2 linked regions of the Homo sapiens genome follow. The protein of the gene in region 2 interacts with the protein of the main gene of each other region in a biochemical or structural test. Each region holds a gene or a part of one and is shown on either strand. Other genes may lie near its edges. The genes, in order: CDON and IHH.

Region 1 (5,546 bases), on a different chromosome or scaffold from region 2:
CGCAGTCCCTGATTGTGGCCAGTTGCCGGAGGAGAGCGTCAAGGACAATGTGGAACCAGTCCCTACTCAGCGTACCTGCTGTCAGGACATTGTAAATGACGTCAGCTCTGATGGCTCAGAAGATCCAGCAGAGTTCAGCAGAGGTCAGGAAGGCATGATCAACCTTAGGATTCCAGATCATCTTCAGTTAGCTAAGAGCTGTGTATGGGAAGGTGATGCTTTCAGAGTTTCCCCTCTATGATTAGTTTACATATTTCTTGGGAGACTGGGTGGGGTGCTGGGTCCTTCAGGAAAAGATAGGACTCAAGATAAAGGATTCTTTGAAATTCTGTTATTACTCATGTCCTTCATCTCAGGCTGTCAATCCCATCACACTTTGGAAAATCTATTTGGAAATAGGCTTTGATTTCATTCGTAGGGTAGCAGAAGACTTGCTGGAAGAATGCATTTTGTGAACATGAGCCCCTTTTTGATTTGAGTTGGTTCTGGAGTTGTAACCTTTCTTTCAGGTGGTTATTTTAGGGCTTTTAAGGGGTTGCTTTACTTCTCAGGTGAATTGTATAGCTTCTCATGAGAGCTCAACTTTATTTTAAACCTTTTAAACCTTCTGTCGCCCTCAAATTCAAACCACACACAAACCAGGTTCTATTTATGCTCGTTTTTCTTTCTTCTTGGCTCAAAGTGTGAAGAAGTTTTTAGACTGCTTTGTAAAAATCAGCCTTTATCATTTGATAATGCTCCCAAACCCTGCTGTGTTTCAGGAGACAGCTGTGCCCATTCAGAAACAGAGATCAACATTGTAAGTTGGAATGCTCTTATTTTGCCACCTGTCCCCGAGGGCTGTGCTGAGAAGACAATGTGGTCTCCACCTGGCATTCCTTTAGACAGCCCGACAGAGGTCCTTCAGCAGCCCCGGGAAACCTGAGGACATGCAAACAACCAGTCATGTTCCAACTTCAAGCCGGTAACTGCACACAACAGGCCTGGGAGCGAACTGTGTGAAGGACCTTAATTCAAATCAGAGAAAATCATTATTTATTTTTTTGTAGTAGTAATGTCATATGAATGTATCTTAAAACGTGTGCCCTTTTATATTATTTATGCCTTAAATGTTTTCTTCCCCATTCCTTCCTCCCCCTCGGTAGGAAACAACCTTGTTTTGCATAGTATTCAGTCACCTGGAGGGCAGAGGGGTCCTTCCATGTTTTCTAACAGCTATAGTGACAGCAAGAGCTCCTCATGCAAAGGATCCCATCTCTTGGCTGCTTCGGCTAGGAGGGAATGCAGGGGCCCGTTGAAGGTTGCCACCAGCTGGGTTTTCAGGTGGAAAATGGTCTTTCAATAGTGTATTCTCAGACTTTTTTTTGTTTGTTTTTTGAGATGGAGTCTTGCTGTCATCCAGGCTGGAGTGCAATGGCTCGATCTTGGCTCACTGCAACCTCCGCCTCCCAGGTTCAAGCAATTCTCCCGCCTCAGCCTCCTGAGTAGCTGGGACTACAGGCACCTGCCACCACGTCCAGCTAATTGTCTTGTATTTTTATTAGAGACAAGGTTTCAGGCTGGTTTTGAACTCCTGACCTCAAGTGATCCACCCGCCTCCGCCTCCCAAAGTGCGAGGATTACAGGCGTGAGCCACCACGTCTGGCCTGTATTATCAGACTTCCTGAGAACACTTTGAAATCAACTGCAGTTGTGACCCATGTTTATAATAACAGACCTGGCTGACGGATTTTACAAGAGTGCCTTCCACAGAAGTGGTAATGTGACCTGTTGACTTTGTATCTGCACGTGGGCACGAGTGATGTTCAGTTTGCTAGGCACTAGTCATAGTGTTATGGACGTGGTGGAGTGTAAGGTCTTGATGAATTACGGCAGTATGCAGAAAAGGAACCAAGGCCAGAGAGACAAATAATGCCTCATGTCCCACTGCTTTAAAATTACATTAATTTATAAAATGGCCACTATGGGCTCTTTTTGACTGTTTCTCGGAGTAGGAACAAAATAAGACATTAAATGGTGGCTTGAAGAGAAAGATACACATTTTCAGAAGAAAGAAAGGGGAGGGCTGCAGGGAGCCTGTCTTGGCGGGAGCTCTCCAGTCTGTTGGATTAGCACAGGGACACGCTTATGGTGCCATGACGCCGAAACTAGTCATCCCCCATCTCCAGCATAGGCAACGGCCTGCAGGGGTGAGTGTCAGAAAAGACTTACTTTGGAAGAAAAGGGTTTTTTTTTGTTTGTTTGTTTTTTGTTTTTTTTTGTTTGTTTGTTTTGGGTTTTTTTCCTGAAATTTCCTGATACCTTTTTCAGAATGTCACCCTTGTAAATAGGCACCTAAAGCCAAGTTGGTCAGCAGAGCTCCTGACCACGGCTGCCTCTGCGTGACAAGGACATTTGCAGCTGCCTTTGGAAGGCTCTTCACATTAAAAAACAATAATTATGTAAGTGTGTTTCATAGCTTGAGTCAAGCTTTCAAGGATCACTGCTCCTTTGTGCATTGTGCATCCCTTTGGGGAAAGAAACAGAAAATTATTCTCTTTCTATAGAGTCAAGCAATTCCAGCAGAAGTGAAGAAATGTTAGTTTCCCAGAAATCGCAGTGGAATAGAATACAATACTGTGTTAACCAACTTTCTGTATAAATGCATCAGTATTCCCTTACATATGTCTATATATTTTATAATAGAACTGTTAGTGAAAATGTGCTTGTTTAAGCTGGGTCACTATGCAAGAGTTACTTCCAGTAGAATGTAGTGAATGTAATTCCCTAGTCGGATATTAGGGATGCTGTAGACCCAAGTTCTACATTCCAGATGTCCGTGCCTATAGTATACTGGATTTATTCTTCATGTTGCTTAAATGCAGTTAGCTCTGGAGGGGGATAGCTGCATCCCTTACTTCTGTGACTAGCAAAGGACAAAGTCCCAGCGCACAGAATATGAAAACATACCCTGTGTTAGCCAATCAAGTTACAGCAATGCTGTCACAAAGGGAGTTTTAGAAAACTGGGGAGTCATTGTCCGTAGACAGCCATTTTGATTTAGGAAACAGGTGTATTAGCATGAGCCTTAGGTCATGAACTGCTTTTAAAGATTGAGTTTGAATATGGGATCTGTCCACGAGGAAGAGAAAATGGCTTTACCTTTAGGACAATCTCATTGTGGACTGCTTTATTTATATTATTAGTAACGCTGTTTTAAGTGTTATTCTTTTTATTGTATTTTATTTATAAAAAATGCCTTTATATATTGAAATATATAAATATATATATATAAACACACACACACACACACACACACACATATATATATATATATATAATTGCCTTTATATTTAGGCGGTATGAGTTCTCCCTAAGCGTGAGTTGGCTCTGCCCTGCACAGGCACCCAAACAGTCCTACCTAATGTCACTTCACCAGGAAATGAGAGGACATGGTACAGTGTGGGAGACAGCACTAACACGTGCTGAATAACTACTGTGTACCAGGCACTGTGCTCGGTGCTTGTTACTGTTAACTCATTTAACCCCCACAACTCATCTACAAAGTTGGCATTAAAATCCCCAAGTCACTCAGTGAGCCATGGGACCTGAATCCGAACCTAGTTTATCTGGAGCCATAATCTGGGCTCCTCCCATTTTTCCATACTGCTTTCCAAAAGCATTGTGGTTCACTCTTTGGATGGAACCAGTCCCGTTCCGTATGCTGTGATCTATCCCTGCCGTGGAATTCCTCCGAGGCTCCAACTCCGCAGCCAGAGAAGCTGCTCTCTGGCCTCCGCGGGCAGAGCTCTGCTTATGACTTCGTCTTCCAGAGGTCCACATTTCTCCCCTTGACGCCCCCTGTCTACCACCTCCACCTGGAAATTTGATCTTTACTGTGCTCAGTGATCACGAAATTGGTCAAGCCTATTCATGTTCCTTCTCATCTAGAATTCTGTGTGATTGTTTTAGCATAAACTGCCCCGCTCCCACTGTATCATTTCACGATCTCCTTTTAATGTTTTTCTTTCAGTTTTGCACTGACAGTCTGGTGACAGGTGCTGCCAGGGTGCAAGTTACATTGCAATGTTCTAAACCTTTTGAAGTGTTCTTAGCAAAAGCCTTTCTTTCTGGGTGTTTTTGTCGAATGAGTCTATGAAGACTCAATGCATCCATCTTGGGCTGATCATGCCACAGATCTCATTCCAGCTATAGTACTGCCAAGAAGTGAAGTTTATCATTGAATTTTACCTGTGTTGCTCTCTTTTAAAGTAATGACTTTGAGATGCATGCTTTGTATCATATTGAAAAGTATGTTTTATTTTCCTTAAAGTTGTAATATTGTGTGTGAAACTGTACATATTTTAAATGATGTAGCTTTGGCAGGTTTTATTTGGTTGATATGATTTTATATTAAAAGAGAAGGCTGCTTTCATATAGCATAGCCCCTGAAGGTGGGAATACTCCCTGTTTGTACAACGCTGCTTATAGTTTGTGATTGGGGTGGGCGAATGTCTTCCTCTGAAATTCTTTGGAACCCCCCACCCCTGTCCTCCCCTGAAACTCCCCTGTGCACACCCCTCTGTTCTGACTGCAGAGATCAAGGCCCTGAAGGAGCAGGATCTTGGGCAAGTGTTTTAGGGGACGCTGAGAACATACCTGACCCTGGGGGCGATGTGGAGGCAGGCCCACCTCCTCGGGGCAACTTTGCGTTTCCTTGGAGGGAAGGGAGGTGGGTAGGAGAGGAGCTTGGGAGGATGAGGAGGAGCGGTCCCGCCTCACACATTGTCTATTTTTACCATTAACCGAGCGCCACATGTTTATGAACTTCAGGATAGAAATTTAGCCTCCTTGTGAAAACGTTTTGTTTTACTGCCCTAAGAAAATACACATCTCTAGGCTTGTCTGACCAGAAAGCCAGCAAAGTCTTTTGCATCGGGTGTGGCCCTTTTGTATTTTATTTCCCATATTTAAATAAGCCTTCCTTAAACCCTAGCCCCAGTCCTGAGAGCTTTGAGGGTAGCCGAAACCCCTTATCTAATAAAGTCTAACTCTGTGAGAACCACAGAATCTTCTTAAGCTTCTCAATTTTCTGTCTCCTTTCAGGCGCCACGTCCCTTGTGCTGGCGGGTCCCCCGTTGGCTTTCTTGCCGTTTCTTCTCATCTGTGTCTCCTGCAGAGGCGGCTCGGAGTCCCGAGTCTTCTAGTCAGTTGAACAAGCATTCATTTGTGTTTTCACCCAGATTACAGACACACACACAAACAGACACACACACTTGGAGCTAGTGAGTCATGCTGGCAGCTGACATTGTGACTCTGGAACAGCCCCGGTGCTCTGTGGGCCAGCTCCCCCAGCCTGGGGGCGGGAAGCTACATCTGCAGTACCTCTGCTCCGTATCTTGTGGGCTGCGACTCCTGGAGTCGGACCACTGCAGCGTCAGTGATGTTCGTAAGCTATGGTTGAGCAAAGGAACACACACCTACACACCTTGCTTCTTCCCACTAGCCAAACCTGGGACCCAGCCATCAGCCTGTCTCTGTGGGAGTCGCAATGGAAGTAGCCCTCT
Region 2 (7,165 bases):
ATCTGGACCGCACGGCGGTATCACAAATCTGGAGGAGGCATGGAGGCAAGCGCCCTGGCGGCGCCTTCACTGGTAGGTGGAGGTCCCCTCTCTCCTGTGCTGTCTTCAGCTCCGGGTATCCATCCCTCCACAGACAGGACTACACCTTTCAGCGCCCGGTCCCTCTGTGCCTCCAAGGCAGGAGGGCCAGCCAGCGGCCGGGAGGGAGGAGTGGCAGCAGAGCCGACTGCCTGCGGCCGGCCTGCGAGGCGTGCAAGGCCCGAGGTGCCCAGTAGGTGTCACCGCAGCCTCAGGGCTGAGGCCTGGGGACGACAGGCTCTGGAGGCGCGGCAGGTGCAGAGCGTCTCGGTAGCTTCAGGGGGTGTGTTGGAGGGGAATCGCCGGCCTGCCTGGATCCCTCGAGCACCACCGAGGATTCCCGCCGGGACCCTCTTATAATCTTAAACCGGCCCACAACCCCGCCAGAGATGACAGGGCCAGGGAACCAGAAACCGGCGGATTAGCGCCAGGGCCGCCCAATGGGGGGCCACATGCAACGTCTTCCTCTGCAAGGCGCAAAAGGGGCTGACAATCCCAGACCTCCAGGACCTCTGCACCGGTGCCCCGCCCCTATACCGTAGGAAGGAACTCCATAAACCAAGCTTCTGATCTCAGGGAGCCAGCTCCACCATCCTCCTCACGTGGAGTTGGGGTAGAGCCGCGCCCTGGGGGAAGGACCGAAGCGGTCATCCTTGGTTGCTGCCTCCTGGTGTGCCTGGGTCCTGAGAGCCCAAGAGACTGTGCAGCTGACTCTGAGAAGAAGCTGGGGCCAGGGCCTTGGTCTGAGGGGAAAGGCCCTTCCACCAGTCCTCGACTCTGAGACTCTGAGATTCGAGGCGCCAACAAGTGTGGGCAGCCCAAGTCTCAACCTACCCCCACCCTGCAGAGCCCGGGCCTCACAGACCCTTGGACTCAGCCTTCCTAGGAGCCAATAGCAGCTACAACCCAGGGCCTCGCAGGTCCTCGCTGGTGCACAGCCTGGCTGGGGGTGCTTACTGCCCAGGGAGGGAGCTCCGCTTGCTCCTTCGTAGACCCTGCCGTCAGGCTTCTAGCCCCGCACCTATGCCCGCCTGCAGCCCTGGTTCCCCGCCTCTCTCCCTCACTGCCACCGCCCCCTCTCGGGTCCAGAGCCCGGGCGTGCGCTGTCAATGATTGCCCAGCCCGTGGCCCGGATCCTTATCTGCATTCCTCGGCGCCCGGCCCGGCCCGGCCACCAGCCAACCTTCGGCCCCGACACTGGCCGGCCAGCCCCGGCGCCAGGGTGCATGCTGAGGGCCCTGAGTCTAGCTGCTCTTCCCAACGGATCTAGAAAGCCAGGGGCCTGCTTTCAGGGGGAAGCCTCGGGAGACCCCGAAGGAAGGGGGTGAAGGTCTCTCCCCTCGCGGACCTGGCTGCTGGGAAGGAATTTGCGCCTCTAAGCTTGGGTGGAGCGCGGGTCCTACTCCAGCATGCAGAGACTAGCGTCAGCCCTGGTCCCTGCCTCCCTCGGCATCTCAGCCCCTCTTTTCCACTCCTTCCCGTCCCCACCACCAAGCCCAGGAATCCCCTAAGCTCAGTCCCAGAGCCCGAAGGCCCCAATAACCCACCCTTCCACCGCAGTAGCACCCCTCAGCTCTCCGGACAGACACGTGGGCTCGCTGGGCAGGTTCCTTTTCCCACCTCCGCCTCCCGATTCAACTCTTCCTCGCTGTTCTTAACCCCAGACCCAGCCGGGACGCTGCTCCTGGAAGGGGCAGCCCGTAGAACCAAGAGCGCACAGGGAGGAAAGGCCGTGGTGACCCTACGCACCCAGAGATTCTTTGCCTCAGGGGTGCCGAAAAGTTTCAAAATGAAAGGGGCACAGCTGTGCAGAAGGTTAGGCCGGGAGGGACTGCGTGGGTCCTGGAGGCGCAGGAGGCAGCCGGGTAGAGGTACCTCCGGGTGCAGCGTCTGGCTGAGCTGCCAGTACTTTGGGGCAGAGGAGCCGCCGCCAACCTGCTGGGCTGTGGGGCTTGGCAGCGGGGAGCTCTTCTAGCAGTCTCCTCCGGGCTTGGGGATGCCGACACTCCTGCCTGGACCCCTGGCCAGCCCATCTTGGGCAGGAGGCAGCGGGGCTTGGCGAGAGGGGCAGGTGCCAGGGAGCGTGCCAGCCAGTCGAGAAAATGTGCCAGGGGGTGGGTAGGGCCGGGCAGGTGGCCGTGCTTCGGTGGCGGCGCGCTGGTAGGGCGGATCGCGCTCACCTGGGTCATGAGGCGGTCGGCGCCTGTGTTCTCCTCGTCCTTGAAGATGATGTCTGGATTGTAATTGGGGGTGAGCTCCTTGAAGCGCTCGGAGCTGCGAGCGATCTTGCCTTCATAGCGTCCGCTGGCGCCCAGGGTCTTCTCGGGCACATTGGGGCTGAACTGCTTGTAGGCGAGCGGCACGAGTTTGCGTGGCGGTCGCCGGCGGCTGCCCACCACCCGACCCGGCCCGCAGCCCCATGCCGCCGGCACCACCAGCAGCAGCAACAGGACCAGGCAGAAGTGCAGTCGGGGCCGGAGCCGGGCGGGAGACATGGCCGGGGAGCCCGGGGGAGCGGCGGGCGAGGTCTCCTGGTGGGCTGATGGGCAGGCGCGTCGACGGGAGCGCTGCGGGGGCTCAGGCGTCCGGGTGGCTCCGGGGGGCTCCAGGCGGGGGCGCCATGGGCGGCGTGGTGCGGCCAGGGCCGGCGGGACTCAAGTGCGGGGCGGGGGCCCAGGGCCCGAGCTGGTGGCGGCGCGCTGTCCCCCTCGGCGCCTCGACTCTGAGCTGCCGGGCTCGCCGGCCGCCAATAAATAGGCCGGCCCGTTTGTTTTGGCAACGCGGCGGCGGCGGGGGGCGGCGGGCGGCGGGGCTGCGGGCCGCCGGGCTGGGCTGGGCTGGCCGGGCCGGCGGGCTGCAGGGCCCCGCGGTTAGCACCCCGGCCCGGCGGTCAGGCGGCTCGGGCGGAGCGGGAGCTGCTGCCGTCTGCGGCGCAGCCCGGGGCCGAGTGAGAGGGGAAATGGAAGAGATCCGGGCTCGGGCCCCGCGCAGACCGCACCCTACCCATGTCCCTGCCTCCTGTGCGCTCGACAGCGAACCTGCAGCAAGGGCAGCACAGCCTCCTCCCCCTCGGGCGGGCGGCCCCGGCACTAGCCAGCCCTCGTCCCGCTCGCGCCTCCGCCGCGCGTCCGCCCGCCCGCTGCCCTCTGCGCCCCCTGCGCTGCCCGAGTTTGCCCTCCCCGCCTGGACGCGCCCCACCCCGCCCTGGCCTCGCCTACCGGCTCTTCGCGGCTCTGGGGTGCCCCGCCAGGCGCAAACCTCCCGGACAGGAGCTGCCACCCCCACGGAGACCGCAACCCACGGCGCGGCCGGACGCGAGGGGCGGGGGGCAGTGGCCGGACCGCACAGCCGCCTACGGTGTCCCCTGCGGGGAAGCAAACCCAAAAGGCAGGAGGCCACTCATAACCTGGTGCCCCACCCTGGCCCGGGCGACGCGCCCTTTCAGCTTGGTGGAGCTGGGTTCTGTATCAACCTGGTGCACATCCCACAGCCTGCCTGTCGGTGTCAAACTGGGGATGGGGAGTCTAGCCTTTTGAAGAGTCAAATAGGGGGTTTTAAGTTGGAAACACTGTTGAAAGTGACAATATGAAGTTGCAAAGGGATAGGTCAATATGCAGAGAAGGGTAGCTAAAATGGTGACGTCAACAGAATACCGAGGAACCCCGACTGACCATGTTAAAGAGGGGCAGCAAAGATCTCAGTAACGGGGGCTTGGTATGAATGCCAAAATGATGCAAAGCCACCGGAACTGCTAAATAATTACTTGGTTCTATATTACACATCTAAAAGAGCAGAGAATATGTAGAAACAACTAGGAACGTGAACATGTGTTATGTGTTTTTATATGACATTCGAGAAAGCTGAATGAATTAGGATCCCTTCTGCCAAAACAAGTAAAGGCAAGTGTGTTAAAAAGCAAACAAAAAACATCACCACCACAACACCAAACTATATGATTTGACTGTAATAGATTCTACAAATCCAATAAAGGTAGAAATGAAAAGATGAGAAATAAAAAGACTTAAAAATTCTCACTCAAATGCTATTAATACAATAGGTACCATTTTATTGGTACTTATATTCCTGAACATGGTAGTTATTAGATATTATTGTACTATGTCTTCTACTTGCATTATCTAATTTAAACTCGAAACGGCCAAAGGAGCTATTACTGTCCACATTTTACGAATGAAGATATTGAAGTTCAGAGAAGATGAACAACTTGCTAGTGGCTGAAAAGCAGGGATTGAAGCCCATGACTCTGGCCCAGCCCCAGTTTTTGCCCATGCAGGTGCATTGTCCCTCTGTGCAGGACCAGTCCACTCAACACCACTGGGTTCGGGGCTGAAGTAGCTGTTCACAGATTTACTCACACTCTCTGGATCGGTTTTATAAACACAAATTCAGGATTGGATGAGACTCAAGAGAGTGCTTAATCTAAGCGCTTGATATTACAGAAAAGGAAACTGAGGCCCACAGAAAGAAATTTAGGATTGCTCCACTAGGAGTGGAGTGGTGCCTGCAATGTGGAAACAAAATGGATCGCCTCCTTTCCTCCCCTTTGCCCGCACCTTCTCCCCACCCCGCATGTTCTCTCTTGCATTAGCATTCAGATTCTGTTTCCTAGTCAAAGATGAATGTTGCTTCTTTTCCCTGAAAGCCTTCCAAGTGCTTTAACTTGTATTTTCCAGGGCTCAAGAACTATCTCTGCGATATTCTCCATCCCCTTTCCCTCCTGCCCCTCTACCTCAGATTTCTGGAACAGGGTCAGTACCTCTCACAAACCAAACAGGGGCTCTCTGTTTTTATGGAGTTCCATGAAAGAAAATTCCATAGGCTTCTGCGGTCACCTATCCCACTGTTTAATAATATTCTTCTAGAGAAATTTCGCCTTAAATTTAATCTATCTCCCTCCCTCTCTAATGCAAATTCAACTCGTTCCTCTTTTTCTGGCCTTAGGGATTAGGGCCATTATCCTGCTGATTATCCTTCATGCATTGTCTTGAAGAGTTGTTAAATTGCTTTCAATCTTCTTTTCTCCAAGTAAAAGACAATTTCTTTAAGTTCTCTCAGAGGTTCTAATTTATAACCATTTATTAGCTTTTCCATTCTTCCTCTCATTTCTCCTCTCTCAGACTGTAATTCTAACCTATTAAATACAAATCTGGTAAAGATCTGATCCATGTCAAATAAGTTTTTATGCTATAAGTACTCCCATAGCTTGCCATCAGGTGTGCCTCTGCAGCAGAGCCACCTCGTTGGTTGAGACTGGGCTTCACCAAGACCAGACCCTCCTCTGCCAGGCTAATTTAGGAACAGTGATTAGGGTGTGTGCTGGAGAAGCAGAGGGAGACCAGCGTGTATCAAGTCTTTTCTCTCTGCCAGGTGCTTTACACAATTAGTAAAATCTCCACAATAATCCTCTGTGCATGACATTATTCTCATTTTACAAATTTATAACTCCAAGATCTAGATGCCAAGTAACTTGCCTGGGGTCCCAGAGCTAAAATTTGAACCCAGAGCTTTTGCACTCCAAAGCTATACTCTTTTCTCAGGACATAATGGTGCTCCAAGATCTGAATCTCAAATTTGGGTCAACATCAGTCCAACCTCCTTCAGTGGAGGAAGGATGGAGACTGGGAGCACCATAATTTCTACAGCAGTGACCTGGAGCACTTTAAATCCAACCTGGGGCCTCAGTATCCGGGTCATTTCTTGGCTGCCTATGTTCTTAGCTGTTCAGTAGGTGTTGGGTGGCTTTTAAACTGGGCTAGTAGCTCCTTAGACCTATCAAACAAGGCCTGGTTCTTTTTCTGATCATTGCCAGCCTCTGTCAGCAGTATTAAAATTGGACGGGGGCAGAGTATGCCACTATGGAAGCTCCAGTGGCATACAGCCTGGGACATGTGACCTCATTATCAGGAGAGAGATGCAGTGATCGAGCCTCACTGGGCTCGACCCTCCTGGGCCTGCTGGTAAAATCACTTTCTTCTTTCACCTTTAGATCTCTTCTATCCTTCAATCAGCTCTATTTTGAAGAGAACAAATTATCTATTGCTTTGGATAATATGATTAATTTTTTGTTTAGAAAAGTGAAAGTTAAAAAAATAGGTTAGAAATGGAGGGAAATACATAATAGAACATAATTTAAATATCTACTTAGTAGACTACCATGTTAGTATTTTTAGTCAATCTTAATTTAACACTATATAGTAGAAATACATTGTACTTATAGTATATACATGATATTCTATAGCATATCTTCACATCCACATACATACTGCATAGGTCCATACTTCTATAGTCAACTAGTATTTTTTCTCCTAATCCTGCCACTTGACCAGATCAATCCAGCTCTAAATCCAAGGGTGGTAAGCCACAACCAGACAAGTTTCAGGAATGCAGTTAGTCCAACACCCTCCAGTGACCCAGTGCACAGCAACCCTGGCTCAGTAGAAACAGTAGACCTGGAGGTGGCAAACCCATGCCTGAACACCATCTTTGCTACCTTCTACCTGTGTGACCTTAGACATGACTCTGAACTTCCATTTTCTCATCTATAACATGAAAATAATATCACATACCTCATAGAGTTGTTGAAAGGGTTAAAACATATAAGCTTTAAAGTACAAATGTTACTTATAATTCACTTTTATCCTCTGCTGGGTTCACTTAGGGACAGCAGCAAGTTTTCTGATTCCTATTACTCATCTAGGGGGAATACATAAGGAGGCTCATGTGTGGTGACCCAAGACAGCAGTGGTCATTAGCAGCCGCTATCTCTTTCTATTAGGGAATATCTACCTTGATGCTGTAGTATAATAGGCACATAAGAACACAGAATGCAAACAGAAAAGTAGAAGATACAGTTGTCCTTGAGGAATTTACTATTTAACCTTAAAGACAAATCACGAAAATAAAAGACAATTACAAAGCCACAAATGCTACTCATAAATGAATACAGAATAATGCATTATAAACTAGATAGGCTAACAGATTAGATGAATTTGGTCTAGGAGAATATGGAAATAAGAAATGATTAGCCTGGGGTTAGATCTCTTGGATAAAATCAGTTCTGAAGGAGGGA

What was found.
Region 1: the proteins of IHH (region 2) and CDON are reported together in a solved structure, tested with the Homo sapiens proteins (one study listed by IntAct).

What each region holds. Positions count from the first base shown.
Region 1 is NC_000011.10:125,956,321-125,961,866, reverse strand, and holds the end of CDON (cell adhesion molecule-related/down-regulated by oncogenes isoform 2 precursor), read left to right. Parts: coding exon 1-143; coding exon of another isoform or gene 144-212; intron 213-761; coding exon 762-925; 3' UTR 926-5,046; downstream 5,047-5,546. UniProt on the Homo sapiens protein: Component of a cell-surface receptor complex that mediates cell-cell interactions between muscle precursor cells. Promotes differentiation of myogenic cells.
Region 2 is NC_000002.12:219,057,895-219,065,059, forward strand, and holds the start of IHH (indian hedgehog protein preproprotein), read right to left. Parts: upstream 3,028-7,165; 5' UTR 2,574-3,027; coding exon 2,259-2,573; intron 857-2,258; exon of another isoform or gene 794-856; intron 1-793. UniProt on the Homo sapiens protein: Plays a role in embryonic morphogenesis; it is involved in the regulation of endochondral skeleton formation, and the development of retinal pigment epithelium (RPE), photoreceptors and periocular tissues.